2 linked regions of the Homo sapiens genome follow. The protein of the gene in region 1 interacts with the protein of each later gene in a pairwise test. Each region holds a gene or a part of one and is shown in the gene's direction. Other genes may lie near its edges.

Region 1 (7,566 bases):
AGTAGCTGAGTGAGGTGGCAGAGGTGGAGGAATGGGCAGGTTCCTGCTTGAAATACACGGTAGAGGAAGAACAGATCTTGGGGGAAAGATAACGAACTCCATTTTGGACACTTTACTTTTAAAGAAACTGTGAACATTCCAATGTTTAATCACAGTTGCAAATAAATATGAACCTCAGGAGACGAAGGTCTGGGCTAGGGATGTGGATTTGTGCTGGAATAATCACCGATGGGTTATAGCTGACACCCGGGAACAGATAATTGTAGAATGTGGTAAGATAGTATTGATTCAGATATCAACATGAAAGAGAAGATCCAAGAGGATGAGCAGATGGAAGAAGCTGAGAGGGCCTGATAGGAGGCAGAGGAGAGTCAGCAAAGAATTGAGAGGGAGTTTCAGACTTGGTGAAAGGTTAGATCAGAAGAAAAGGGAGTCATGGTGTGTTTGTCGGGTGTTCACTGGTGACCTTGAGCTGAGCAGTCTGGCAGTAGGAGGGAAGCAGAAACCAGGTTAACTCAGGACTGGGAGGTAAGGCAGTGGGATCCAGGAGTGTGGACCGCCCTTTCTAGAAGTTTGGTGGTGAGAGAGGGAGAAGGGGTGGTCAGTTGAAGAAGCAAAGTCAAGGGAATGTGGTTCTAGCACAGAGAGGCTTCAGGAAGCATGTTGCCAAGATGAAAGAACCAGTGCCCGAGTGGAGGGGAAAGACACAGGAGGGGACTGGGCATGGAGAGGCCCCCAAGGGAGGTGTGTGGTCCGGCAGGAGAGGGCTGCCAAAATCCAGAGTCTCCTGGAGATGCCTCCAGCATGTCCTTTCAAAAACAACAACAACAACAACAACAAAAAACACAACCTATTACATAATTGTTTAAGGTAACATTCATTTTAAAAAAGTTTTAAATTTATTATATTCTAGAGATAGGGCTGGGTTGCCCAGACTGGAGTGCAGTGGCACAAACACAGTTCACTGCAGCCTCCAACTCCTAGGCTCAAGCCATCCTCCCGCCTCAGCCCCCCAAGTAGGTGGGACTACAGATGCATGCCACCATGTCCAGCTTTTTGTTTTGTTTTAATTTTTATAGATATGGGGTCTCACTATGTTACTCATCCTGATCTCGAATTCCCGGCCTCAAGTGATCCTCCCACCTCAGCCTCTTGAGTAGCTAAGACTAAAGGTGCATGCCACCACACCTGGCTAATTTTTTTTTTTTTTTCTGAAAGGTGGGGTCCAGGCCGGGCATGGTGGCTCACGCCTGTAATCCCAGCACTTTGGGAAGCCGAGGCAGGCAGATCACCTGAGGTCAGGAGTTCGAGACCAGCCTGGCCAACATGGCAAAACCCCGTCTCTACTAAGAATACAAAAATTAGCTGGGCGTTCTGGCGTGCACCTGTAGTTGTAGCTACTCAGGGAAGCTGAGGCAGGAAAATCGCTTGAACCTGGGAGGTGGAGGTTGCAGTGAGCCAAGATCACGCCACTGCACTCTAGCCTGGGCGACAGAGCAAGACTCCATCTCAAAGAAAAAAAGAAAGGAAGAAAGAAAGATGGGTCCCTATGTTGCTCAGGCTGGTCTTAAACTCTTCGCCTCAAGCGATCGTCCAGCCTCCATCTCCCAAAGCACTGGGATTGGAGGTATGCCCCTGGCCTATTTTATAATTTTTATTATTTTTTGTCTTTGTCCTGGTCTTTGCTTTTACTGTAACAGTTACATTTTGCTGGCCTTATCCTGTTGTGCAATCCCCTAAGAGGCTGCAGGAGCCTCCCCATCTCCCTCTTCCACCCTCCTGGAAACTGTTGTATTGTTTCCTTCTTGGAAAGGTAGACATATTGTTTGTTTGTGGAGCCATCTCAGCTGGGCATGACCCTCTGAGGGATCAAATATTTGGACAGAAGCCGAAGGAAATACTGGCAGATGTTTCTAACTCCTAGCTGTGGCTTTCCCTGGGGTGTGGAGGAGGGCAAGGAGAGAGTACCTTTGAAGAGCGGGAACACAGTTCCATGTGGCTTTCCTGAGCGCGCTCCAACTGCAGCGCTTACTCCGAGCTCTGCCAGCTGGGCGGCCCGCCACAGGGAGACTGGGAGCCAGGAGCCCAGAGGCCCGTGTGGTGATCTGGCTGGCTGAGGTGGAGTTGAGTTTTTGCACACTGGAGGGTGTCTCTATGACCCCTGTTCTGCCCTGAGGTCCCTCCTCTGAGCTCTGACCTGGGGCTGGGTGGGACCCGGCACTGTTCCAAGAACCCCTCATGCCTTCCAGCTACCTGGTGATGCCCTTCATGCAGACGGATCTGCAGAAGATCATGGGGATGGAGTTCAGTGAGGAGAAGATCCAGTACCTGGTGTATCAGATGCTCAAAGGCCTTAAGGTGGGTGGGGACTTGGAGGCTGGCAGAGGGGACGCCTTGCTGTCTAGACCTGAGGTTTGGGGAGGCTGGAGGGAGCGCACTGTTACAGGTCGGCCAGCCTGAAGTGCCTGGTGTGGAAGCTGGGCCATGGACTCACCCTTCTCTCTCTCCCACATAGTACATCCACTCTGCTGGGGTCGTGCACAGGGTGAGTGCTTTCTCTGCCATGGTCCTCAGAGGCCCCTGTCCCATCCCTGGGTATGGGGTTCTCTGGCAATCAAGGAGTGGGAAAGTTGGAGGGAGGGGACACTGCCCAGGAGCACAGAATGTGGAGTTTTCACACCCAGCCACGGCCCAGGAAGGCCTGCTCAAAAGAGTCACTGTGTCCCAGGGGACTTCATGGGGAATTGCTGCAGACAAAGTGAGCCCTGAGCTGAGTGTTTCAGGCTTCAAGAATCAGGAACATTTTAGAGCTGGGTGGGCCCTGAGAGAACACCTAGTCCAACCCTCATTTTACACATGAAGAAACTGAGGCCCAGAAGGGGAAGGGGCCTGGCTGAGGTCACACCCCTGGGTGGTGGTGGAGCTAGGACAAGCTCCATCTCTGCCTCAGCCTAGCATGCATTCTCTGTCCTCCCCCCAGGACCTGAAGCCAGGCAACCTGGCTGTGAATGAGGACTGTGAACTGAAGGTGAGTGGGCTGCAGGCTCAGCCCAGAGGCGGGATAGGCCCTCCCCCAGGGAAGCCCCTGGAAGCCGCTCCCAGAGCCTCCTCCCCTCAGCAAGTTCCTTTTCTATTTATCCCCTGTGCCATAGATTCTGGATTTTGGGCTGGCGCGACATGCAGACGCCGAGATGACTGGCTACGTGGTGACCCGCTGGTACCGAGCCCCCGAGGTGATCCTCAGCTGGATGCACTACAACCAGACAGGTCAGTGGTCAATGCCTGAGAGGGCGGTCCTGGGGCCATCTGGTCACTCGGTGCTGACTGACTGCTGGGCCCCAGACAGTCCAGGTGACACTCTCCCTCCCTCTGCAGTGGACATCTGGTCTGTGGGCTGTATCATGGCAGAGATGCTGACAGGGAAAACTCTGTTCAAGGGGAAAGATTGTATCCTTTGCTGGAAAAGCCAAACTCCATCTAGGGATTCCTTCCTTCAACAGACACTTTATTTAAATAACTGTCTTTTTTTTCTTAATGTGAGAGTGATACATACTCCCTGTAGAATAATTTGTAAATGCAGATAAGGCTGGACGCAGTGGTTCATGCCTGTAATCCCAGCACTTTGGGAGGCTGAGGTGGAAGGATCCTTTGAGCCCAGGAGTTTGAGACCAGATGTGGCAACATAGGGAGACCCCATCTCTAAAAAAGTTTTTTAAATTAGCCAGACATGGGCCTGGCGCAGTGGCTCATGTCTGTAATCCCAGCACTCTGGGAGGCTGAGGCGGGCAGATCATGAGGTCAGGAGATCGAGACCATCCTGGCTAACAAGGGGAAACCCCGTATCTACTAAAAATACAAAAAATTAGCCAGGCGTGGTGGCAGGCGCCTGTAGTCCCAGCTACTCAGGAGGCTGAGGCAGGAGAATGGCGTGAACCCAGGAGGTGGAGCTTGCAGTGAGCTGAGATCGCGCCACTGCACTCCAGCCTGGGTGACAGAGCAAGACTCTGTCTCAAAAAAAAGAAAAAGAAAAATCCCAGCTACTTGAGAGGCTGAGGTGGGAGGGTTGAGCCTGGGAGGTTGAGGCTGCAGTGAGCTATGATTGTGCCACTGTACTCCAGCCTGGGTGACAGAGGGAGACCCTAACTCAAAAAAAAAAAAAAAAAAAACAAAATGTTGGGTGGGCATGGTGGCTCACACCTATAATCCCAGCACTTTGGGAGGCCATGGCAGGCGGATCACCTGAGATTAGGAGTTCGAGACCAGCCTGGCCAACGTGGTCAAACCCCATCTCTACCAAAAAATACAAAAATTAGCCGGGTGTGGTTCACGCCTGTAATCCCAGCTACTCGGGAGGCTGAGGCAGGAAAATCGCTTGAACCCAGGAGGTGGAGGTTGCAGTGAGCCAAGACTGTGCCACTGCACTCCAGCCTGAGTGACAGAGTGAGACCCTGTCTCAAAAAAAAAAAAAAAAAAAAAATGTAGATAAGCAAAATGATGAAAAATTCTACCACTACGTGGAAAATACATTTTGGCACGGCACACATTAACTGAGTACCTGTGTGTGCAGGGCAGGCCTTTGGTGAGAAGACGAGGAAACAGAAAAGAGTCACTGGGATGAAGGCTGAGAAGTCCACATCCATTTGTTGGGTAGGGACCCCCCTCAGCCTGGCACGTTGGAAAGCTCTCCAGAGCCCTGAGCCCTGAAGAATAAGCCTCCTCCTGAGAGCAGGAGGTGGTTAGGCAGGGCTGGAGCCTGGATGATCAGTTGCCATGGTGCCCGGGTGAAGTGATGGTGGGGTCGCAGGAAGGGCAGTCTCAGACCCACCAGGAGAGCAAGGCTAAGCCTTAACCTGCCACCAAGACCTGGACCAGCTGACCCAGATCCTGAAAGTGACCGGGGTGCCTGGCACGGAGTTTGTGCAGAAGCTGAACGACAAAGCGGTGGGTGGTAAATGGGACCTAGGCTGGCCTGGGCTGTGTGCTTGCCTGACGTGGGCCCAGTGGGCTGCAGGCCTTTGTGGAAGAAGGCTCACCAGCACCTTCCCACAGCATCCTCCTACCCTGGCAGGCACTCTTGTCTTAATCTCACCGTGGACCCTGACCTGAACTTTCAGCCCTGCTCTGAGGCTTTTCTGAAATCCCTGCTCTACACGCTGAGGCCAGAGCCCTAAGGGGTTTGATGCTTTTCTGTCTTCCAGGCCAAATCCTACATCCAGTCCCTGCCACAGACCCCCAGGAAGGATTTCACTCAGCTGTTCCCACGGGCCAGCCCCCAGGGTGAGTCTCAGAGCCCGCTCCCCAGGGGCCTCTCAGCGTATCCCAGAGGGCGGGCTCTCCCAGCCCCTGGTGTGAGGCTCTTGGCTCTGCCCCTGCAGCTGCGGACCTGCTGGAGAAGATGCTGGAGCTAGACGTGGACAAGCGCCTGACGGCCGCGCAGGCCCTCACCCATCCCTTCTTTGAACCCTTCCGGGACCCTGAGGAAGAGACGGAGGCCCAGCAGCCGTTTGATGATTCCTTAGAACACGAGAAACTCACAGTGGATGAATGGAAGCGTAAGAGCTGGGGCCTCGGGCTTCCTCGCCTCCGCCTGCAGCCTCTCTTCCTTGCTTCCTCCATCTTTGTGCCTGGCCTCTGCCAGCCCTACCTGCCACCTCCTTCTTGGTGGGCATTGTCTCCTGGGTGCTTCTTTCTCCTTGAGCTGACTTCGCTCTCCATGCTGTCTCTGAAGGGGGGTGGACTTTCTCGCCACAGCACCTCTTTACGCACCTTAAACCATGCTGCCTTTCTCAGAGCACATCTACAAGGAGATTGTGAACTTCAGCCCCATTGCCCGGAAGGACTCACGGCGCCGGAGTGGCATGAAGCTGTAGGGACTCATCTTGCATGGCACCGCCGGCCAGACACTGCCCAAGGACCAGTATTTGTCACTACCAAACTCAGCCCTTCTTGGAATACAGCCTTTCAAGCAGAGGACAGAAGGGTCCTTCTCCTTATGTGGGAAATGGGCCTAGTAGATGCAGAATTCAAAGATGTCGGTTGGGAGAAACTAGCTCTGATCCTAACAGGCCACGTTAAACTGCCCATCTGGAGAATCGCCTGCAGGTGGGGCCCTTTCCTTCCCGCCAGAGTGGGGCTGAGTGGGCGCTGAGCCAGGCCGGGGGCCTATGGCAGTGATGCTGTGTTGGTTTCCTAGGGATGCTCTAACGAATTACCACAAACCTGGTGGATTGAAACAGCAGAACTTGATTCCCTTACAGTTCTGGAGGCTGGAAATCTGGGATGGAGGTGTTGGCAGGGCTGTGGTCCCTTTGAAGGCTCTGGGGAAGAATCCTTCCTTGGCTCTTTTTAGCTTGTGGCGGCAGTGGGCAGTCCGTGGCATTCCCCAGCTTATTGCTGCATCACTCCAGTCTCTGTCTCTTCTGTTCTCTCCTCTTTTAACAACAGTCATTGGATTTAGGGCCCACCCTAATCCTGTGTGATCTTATCTTGATCCTTATTAATTAAACCTGCAAATACTCTAGTTCCAAATAAAGTCACATTCTCAGGTTCCAGGTGGACATGAATTCCAGGGGGAAATGATTCAACTCACTACAGACAGCTGGGAGGGAGGGGCCCCTTCCTGGGCCCCGTGCTGAGGCCTTGTGCTCTGTGAAGGAACCCAATGTGTTTGGCTGCTAAATTAAGGGAGTTGCAGAGAGAGCTGCAGCTGGTGCGATTGCATTCAGGTTATTTTGGGTGAGTGATAAGCAATCAAGATATGAAACAACAGCAGGCTCGGAGACTGCGAGCTGCACAGGCAGAAATGGGCTCTTGCCTGGCTTGATGGCAAACCGTTCTGCTCCCTTTGGGAGATGGCACAGCTCTCCAGAGCTTTGACCTGACAGTGGCTAGAACCTCTCTGTTTTTATCTGAGAAACTTTGGCAGAACAAATTTCCATGTGCACAAGCTGTCGGGCACAGTGGGTCTCAAATTTCCTTGTGCACCAGGGGACTTGTTAAAATGCAGATTCCTGGGCCCCACCCCAGGGCTTGTGACTCAGCAGGTCTGCAGTTGAGACCTTAGAATGTGCATTTGAATGAGGACCTCTCGCCCTGACCCAAGCCTAGTGATTCTGATGGATATCAGACCATAGTTCGAGACATTTAGTGGATTTCAGTCATACTTGATTTGTTGGGAGGCCTAAATCAAAAACCTATAGGAGGAGACTGGGGGGCTTCAGATGGAGTTTCACACTCATCTTACAGGTGTTAAAACTGAGGCTCAGAAAGCTTTTTTTTGTTTGTTTGTTTGAGACAGGGTCTGGCTCTGTCACCCGGGCTGGAGTTCAGTGGCACAATTACATCTTACTGCAACCTCAGCCTCCTGGGCTCAAGCCATCCTCCCACCTCAGCCTCCTAAGTAGCTGGGACTACAGGTCTGTGCCACCCAGGTGCACCAGGACTGCAGGTGGCTAATTAAAACATTTTTTTTCTTTTTTGTATAGGCGGGGTTTCTCTATGTTGCCCAGGCTGATCTTGAACTTCTGGACTCAAGTGATCCTCCCACTTTGGCCTCCCAAAGTGCTG
Region 2 (7,572 bases), on another chromosome or scaffold:
CTCAGGGATTTGCGGGAGATTGCTGGGCTTTTCTACACATCGTCGGGGTTGGATTTCACCTTCACATGAAATAGATATATTTTGAGACGGAGTTTCACTCTTGTTGCCCAGGCTGGAGTGCAGTGTCTCGATCTCAGCTCACTGCAACCTCTGCCTGCCAGGTTCAAGTGACTCTCCTGCCTCAGCCTCCAGAGTAGCTGGGCTTACAGGCTCCCGCCACCACGCCCGGCTAATTTTTGTATTTTCAGTAGAGATGGGGTTTCACCATTTTGTTCAGGCTGGTCTTGAACCCCTGACCTCAGGTGATTCACCTGCCTCTGCCTCCCAAAGTGCTAGGATTACAGGCATGAGCCACCGCGCCCGGCCCACAGTGAAATATTTTTGAGTGTCATGTCTAAATGCCCTGAAACCCAGAGAAGGACAATCTTGTCTCTGCTCGCGGAGCCTCCCACAGCACTTCAATTGTTGCAAGATTTCCTTCTGAGCGTTAAACGTGCATTTCTGGAGACTGGATAGATACGTCAAGTGTATCTTCCCAATGCTTTCAAAAATGCCCCCATCTTCACCCAGAAAACAGACCCCCCCCCCCCGCCACCTGCCTGTCCCTGCAGCTGGGCGTCTGATGGTCACGGCCGTAGCTCCCCTGAAACCCCTCATTCCCCTGCATCAGCCCAGGTCCCACCAGGTTCTGGAGCCTGTACGTTTCCACTCAGGGCCGTTATCTCCACCTGAGGGCCTCTGGCGTCCTGCGGTTGCCGTCCCTGCCCCTGCATTTCCTCTGCTGAACCACTTGGCCTGGGCTGTTTTCCTGACTAGACCCTACTGTATGTAACATACGGCTGGGTTTCTACAAGTGCTAAATAGCCATTGATAACAAACTTAATAGACACACGGCCTTTAAGGAAATCCAATTAATATTGAAAAAGAAGGGGAAGAAAAGAAATTAGCTACTCCCTGCTCATCTAGGGCTTTTCCCAGCACGTTGGGAGTAAATCCTCGAGCTGTGAGACTTCAGCTTCCGCTCAGTCCCTGGGGCTCACATGGCCCCTTTGTGATCTCGGATCAGAAATGAAGTAGAAGTTAAATTACAACTAGGAATAAAATCAGGGCTGGGCGCAGTGGCTCACGACTGTAATCCCAGCACTTTGGGAGGCCGAGGTGGGCGGATCATGAGGTCAGGAGATCAAGACCATCCTGGCTAACGCGGTGAAACCCCGTCTCTACTAAAAATACAAAAAATTAGCCGGGCGTGGTGGCGGGCGCCTGTAGTCCCAGCTACTGGGGAGGCTGAGGCAGGAGAATGGCGTGAACCCGGAAGGCGGAGCTTGCAGTGAGCCGAGATCGCGCCACTGCACTCCAGCCTGGGCGACATAGCAAGACTCCGTCTCAAAAAAAAAAAAATTCAGAACGGCTCTCAGAAGAGGCCATTGATTCTAATAAGCTTCATTTTGTTCATTCACCGGAAATCTACTTCTACCTGCAGGAGTTTACGTCTCAAAGTTTTTCATTTCTACCTAAACAGTAGCTAATATAGGGTTGGCTTCTGAACAGTGGAGTTGTTCTCCATGTTTTCCTGTGATTGTTCCTTTCTCATTTAACTGGGAGTGGATGCATTACATGGGGGTGAGGGCATGGCCCTATCAGGACCCTGGCTGCTTACCTGGATTCCACAGAAGTCCTGGTGTCAAGGCTGGTGGAGCTGCTGCACCAGAGACCCTCAAGCATGAAAACAGGATTGACCAGGACAGCCTCACGGTGCCGAGAACGAAAGTGCCTTCCCTCTCCGCTAATCCACAGCGTCCACCTGCCCGAGAACAGCTCTCCCAGTCCCACCTTCCGTCCCGCTCTGAGGTGAGCGGGGAGAGAAAAGACAGGAATGCGCATTGTGGGCGCTTGGGCTCCGTGGCCGCGTCCATCACCGTCCGTCCACTCTCCGCTGCCTTTGCTTAGTCATGTGGTCGCTGGATGTGTTCAGGAGACGGCAGCGTCTCCACAGCCCACTGAGAGCTTCTGTAACTAAGAAAAAGCTCTTAATAACTTAATGGAGAGTGGACGCTGGGTGTCAACAGCTGACTACAGCTGACCATTTAACAAATCGGCTCTAAAGCCCTTCATGTATGGAGGCTCCGTAACGAGGACTTACATAATTACCTTTTTATGTATGTATGTACGTACTTGTTTATTTATTTATTTTTGAGACAGGGTCTCTCTCTCCCAGGCTGGAGGGCAATGGCGCAATCTTCGCTCACTGCAGCCTTGACCTCCCAGGCTCAAGTAATCCTCCCTCCTCAAGGCGTGTGCCACCACGTTCAGCTAATTTTTTAAATTTTTAGCACAGACAGCGTCTCGCCATATTGCTCAGGCTGGTCTCCACCTCCTGGGCTCAAGCGATCCTCCTGTCTCGACCTCCCAAAGTGCTGGGATTACAGGTGTGAGCCACCGTGCCCAGCCTTCTTGGGCCTCTTCTAAGGGAAGTATATAAGGCTCTGTCCCATGACCTATCACCTCCCACAAGCCCCACATCCTAATACCATCACCTTGGGGGTTAGGGTTTCTTTTTTTTTTTGAGACAGAGTCTCGCTCTGTCACCCAGGCTGGAGTGCAGTGGCGCGATCTTGGCTCACTGCAAGCTCCGCCTCCCGGGTTCACACCATTCTCTTGCCTCAGCCTCCCGAGTAGCTGGGACTACAGGTGCCTTCCAGCATGCCCGGCTAATTTTTTGTATTTTTTAGTAGAGACTGGGTTTCACCGTGTTAGCCAGGATGGTCTCGATCTCCTGACCTCGTGATCTGCCCGCCTCGGCCTCCCAAAGTGCTGGGATTACAGGCGTGAGCCACCACGCCCGGCCAAGGGGGGTTAGGGTTTCAACATACGAACGCTGGGGACAGACACTCAGAATACAGCAGAGGTGTACGTTTAACTTTGAAAGAAACTGCCTCACTATTTTCCAAGGTGGTTAACTCAGTGTTTGCTCTTGCCAGCAAAATTTGATATTGCCAATTTTTAAATTTTAGCCATTCTGGTGGATTTCAAGCAGCATCTCATCGTGGTTTGAATTTCCATTTCATCCATCTTCAAAATTACTGACCCTTTCTTCTGTAGTGCCCAACCAACCATTAGTACCATCCAATGATATTTTTTAAGAGATGGGGTCTTGCTATGTTGGTCAGGCTGGCGTGCAGTGGCTATTCACAGGCGAGATCACGCTCATGGCAGCCTCGAACTCCCGGACTGAAACTACCATCACCCCTCACGCTCCAGAGTTGCTGAGACTACAGACCTGAGCCACCTCGCTCAGATCAATTATGTTTTTAACCAAGGATATCAATTATATTTTTCAGGTCTTTCATTTTCATTTAATAATATCTAAATTAGGCGGGGCGCGGTGGCTCACGCCTGTAATCCCAGCACTTTGGGAGGCCGAGGCTGGTGGATCACTTGACATCAAGAATTCGAGACCAGTCTGGCCAACATGAGGAAACCCCGTCTCTACTAAACATGCAAAAATTAGCCAGGCGTGGTGGTGGGCACCTGTAATCCCAGCTACTTGGGAGGCTGAGGCAGGAGAATCGCTTGAGCCCAGGAGGCGGAGGCTGCAGTGAGCCGAGATCGCGCCACTGCACTTCAGCCTGGGCGACAGAGCAAGACACCGCATCAAAAAATAAATAAAACATCTAAATTACATACAGTAAAATCCTCCTTCCCTTTTTCGAGACAGGGTCTCACTATTAGGTTGGTGCAAAAGTAATTGCGGCTTTTACCATGACTTTCAAAATATTTGCCCGGGCTGGTCTCGAGCTCCCGGGCCGTGGGGATCCTCCCGCCTCGCCTCCCAAGGCGCTGGGACTCCGGACGCAGCCGCCGCGCCCGGCAAAATCCGCGCTTTCAACTGCGCGTCAGGGCCCCTTGGTGAAGGAGCGGGAAGCTCCGCCGGTCTCCATAGCGCCGGCGGCCTGTTCTGCGGGTTCGCGGGGGAGTGAGAGGCGCTTCCTCACTCCTGCTCCAGGACGGGACGACGGCCGCAAACAGTACTCGGGCTCGGAGCACACGAACCCGGAGGCCGCTTCGTTCTCGGAGACGCACAGCGCCCCACGGACGCCAGGCCGGGGCCGGGAGGCGCGAAGAAGCGCCGCCCCGCGCCCGGCCCCGCCCTGGTGGCCTCCCCGGGCCCCAGCCCCGGCCCCCGCCAGCACATTGCGCTCCCCGCGCCTCGCCGGTCCCAGGACCCCGCGTCGGGCTGCCCGCGCCCCGCCTGCCGCGCCCGCCCGTCCGCTCGCCCGTTCCCGCCCGCTTGGGTCCCAGGGCCGGGGCCGCGCCCTCGCCGGGCCTCCGCGAGCGGGGCCGCCGTCCGTGTCCCCCGCGCCGCCCCGGCCGCCTCGAGCGCGGCGCCGTCAGGCAGGGCGCGGGCAGCCCGGCGCGGGGTCCTGGGACGGGCGCGGCGCGGGGCGCGGGCTTCTCGGCGGCTGCGGCCCGGGCGGCGGCGATGCTGTGGCCGCGGCTGGCGGCGGCCGAGTGGGCGGCGCTGGCCTGGGAGCTGCTGGGCGCCTCGGTGCTGCTGATCGCTGTGCGGTGGCTGGTGCGGCGGCTGGGCCCGCGGCCGGGAGGTCTGGGCCGCAGCGGGACCCCAGTTCCTCCGCCAAGCGCGGCCGCCGCCCCCGCCTCAGGTAAGGCCCAGGCGGTCGCTGGGTCCCCGCACCCTGGCCCCTTCCCCGCCCCGACGCCCTCCTCGGGCCTGGGGTCCCGGCCGCGCCCCTGGAGCCGGCAGCAGTTGGGCGAGGCGGCCGGGGAAACCAGGGCCGGTCGGGAAAGGCCATTCCGGCCGCGGAAAGGGCAGTTGCGGGGACTTGGCTTCCCGGGCCGGGGGCGGAGGGGCCACGCCGGGTTCGGGGGTGAGAGCTTTCCCGGGCCCTGGAGCAGCCTCCGGGGAAGGCGGCGGGGGCCCGGCGAGGCGTTAGCGGAGACTCTTGCTGCGGTCTCTCGAGACCTGGGGAGGGATGGCCCAAAGGAGGGCGGCGCGGGGAGGAAACCCCTGGGTCCCGGATGTGTTTGGAACGTGAAGCCATTGCGGTTACTGGTCATGGAACATAAGGCAGAGACGGAAAAGGCAAATGTAACTCAGGGGTTTGGGGCCAGAGGAAGAGGGAGAAGGTGGCCATTTATTGCTTTGCGGTAGACTGTCGGGTCTGGGTGATGTGGAGATCAGAGGTGGGTTTTGGTCGTTTTAAGTTTGAGGTAACTGATACAGTGAACTGTGTATTTCAGCTCCATCCCCTTTTCCTGGCATACAACTCTTGAAATCCCGGGAACCTCCAAAGTGATGTCTTTTGTAGGCTGAGTGGACTGGTGGCCGGCAGCCCCTAGGGAGCTTCTGGATGGGGCTGGTCGCAGGAAAGACCAAGGCAGGGTTAGAGGTTCTGGGGACTTTCAGCCCCACCCCCAACCTCTGGGGAGGAGAGAGGGGTGAAGGTTGCGTTGATCACCAGTGGCTGATGAATCACGCCTGTGAAATGAAGTTCCTGTAAAAACCCAAAAGGGCTGGGTTCAGGGAGCTTCCAGATAGTACGTGGGGGTTCCTGGAGGCGGTGCCCAGAGAGGCCCTGAATTTCCAAGCGCTTCCCCCCGGTTTTACGTCACGCATCTCTTCACCTGTATTCTTTGTAATCCTTTATACTCTGCTGGTAAGTGTAAGTAAAACATGTCTGTGAGTTCGGGAGCCACTCTAGCAAATTACCGCAACCTGAGGAGGTCACCGGGTTACGCCCCGTCGGTCCCAAGCGCAGGTCAAACAACCTGGGCACTGGAAGTGGGGGGCAGTCTTGCGGGGCTGAGCCGTTAACCTGTGGGGGTCTGCTGGTATCTCCAGGAAGACGCTGTCAGAATAGATGACTGAATTAGGATGACAGACGACACCCAGCCTGTGTCCACTGCAGAACTGACGACCTGCGTGATTTGTGGGGAGAAAATCCCCACATACCTGGTGTCCGAAGCATGTTGCAAGACTAGTGGGAGAAACTGAGTTTGTTTTTACTCTAAATTGTCAGACTGTTAGTCACTGCGGAGAGGTGCTTTCTGATGATTGAGTGGGGATTCCTGTCCAATTGTGTGAGTTTGTGTCTCGGCCCTACCACTTTTTTTTTTTTTTTTTTTTGAAATGTAGTCTCGCCCTGTGGCCCAGGCTGGAGTGCAGTGGCGCGATCTCGGCTCACTGCAAGCTCCGCCTCCCGGGTTCAAGCGATTCTCCTGCATCAGCCTCCCGAGTAGCTGGGATTACAGGCGCCTGCCACCACGCCCGGCTAATTTTTGTATTTTTAATAGAGACGGGGTTTCACCATGTTGGCCAGGATGGTCTCGAATTCCTGACCTCAGGTGATCCACCTGCCTCAGCTTCCCAAAATGCTGGGATTACAGGTGTGAGCCATCGCACCGGGCCCTACCACTTATTGCTGTGGGCTTAACCTGTTTTCAGCCTGCTCTTTTAGGAATGGGGATGATAGTGATACCTGGTTAGGCTTTTTTGGGAGTTGGGTAAGTGCAGCACTTGGTATGTGTTAAGCACCTCTGAGTGCTGTTACTGTCACCAGCGGCATCATCCAGGCAGAGCTGCGGACAAGGTGGCGGCGGGTGAGGGTGGTGTTTTGAGAATGGCTGAAATAAAAAAATACTGATTTATTTTATATAAAAATATGTTTTTATATATGATGTATAATATACGTATATCATGGCATATGATACGTGTATATCATATAGCACATATAGTATACATATATATAGTCAGCAGAGATTTAGAGAAACTGGGCCTCGTGCATTGCAGGTGGGGACGGTAAGTGGTGCAGCTACTCTGGGAATCAGCCTGGCAGGTTTTTAGGAAGTTAAACCTGCCCTGCATTCCTGAGCTTTTATTAGACAAATGAAAACTATTTTCACACAAAAACCCATATTTAATGTTCATAGCAACTTTATTTGTAATTACCAGAAACTGAAATAACTCAAATGGTTAAACTTGCACACTGATACCCCGGGGTGCCACTCCGCAGCGATCCTCTCTGCCACGTGGGTGCCCCGGGGTGCCACTCTGCATGATCCACTCTGCCACGTGGGTGCCCCGGGGTGCCACTCCGCAGCGATCCTCTCTGCCACGTGGGTGCCCCGGGGTGCCACTCTGCGTGATCCACTCTGCCACGTGGGTGCCCCGGGGTGCCACTCCGCAGCGATCCTCTCTGCCACGTGGGTGCCCCGGGGTGCCACTCCGCAGCGATCCACTCTGCCACGTGGGTGCCCCGGGGTGCCACTCCGCAGCGATCCTCTCTGCCACGTGGGTGCCCCGGGGTGCCACACTGCGTGATCCACTCTGCCACGTGGGTGCCCCGGGGTGCCACTCCGCAGCGATCCACTCTGCCACGTGGGTGGATCTCAAGGGCATTATGCTGAATAGGAAAAGCCAGTCTCAAAAGTTGTGTACTTGGCCGGTTGCGGTGGCTCATGCCTGTAATCCCAGCACTTTGGGAGGCCGAGGCAGGTGGATCACAAGGTCAGGAGTTCAAGATCAGCCTGGCCAACATGGTGAGGCAGTCT

Evidence for each region.
Region 2: the proteins of MAPK13 (region 1) and ANKLE2 interact in a two-hybrid assay, tested with the Homo sapiens proteins (one study listed by BioGRID and IntAct).

The regions. Positions count from the first base shown.
Region 1 is NC_000006.12:36,133,504-36,141,069, forward strand, and holds part of MAPK13 (mitogen-activated protein kinase 13), read left to right. Parts: intron 1-2,249; coding exon 2,250-2,358; intron 2,359-2,515; coding exon 2,516-2,545; intron 2,546-2,980; coding exon 2,981-3,028; intron 3,029-3,152; coding exon 3,153-3,267; intron 3,268-3,375; coding exon 3,376-3,447; intron 3,448-4,861; coding exon 4,862-4,941; intron 4,942-5,198; coding exon 5,199-5,277; intron 5,278-5,375; coding exon 5,376-5,552; intron 5,553-5,790; coding exon 5,791-5,870; 3' UTR 5,871-7,566. UniProt on the Homo sapiens protein: Serine/threonine kinase which acts as an essential component of the MAP kinase signal transduction pathway.
Region 2 is NC_000012.12:132,758,710-132,766,281, reverse strand, and holds the start of ANKLE2 (ankyrin repeat and LEM domain-containing protein 2), read left to right. Parts: upstream 1-4,449; 5' UTR 4,450-4,483; coding exon 4,484-4,664; intron 4,665-5,126; exon of another isoform or gene 5,127-5,205; intron 5,206-7,572. UniProt on the Homo sapiens protein: Involved in mitotic nuclear envelope reassembly by promoting dephosphorylation of BAF/BANF1 during mitotic exit.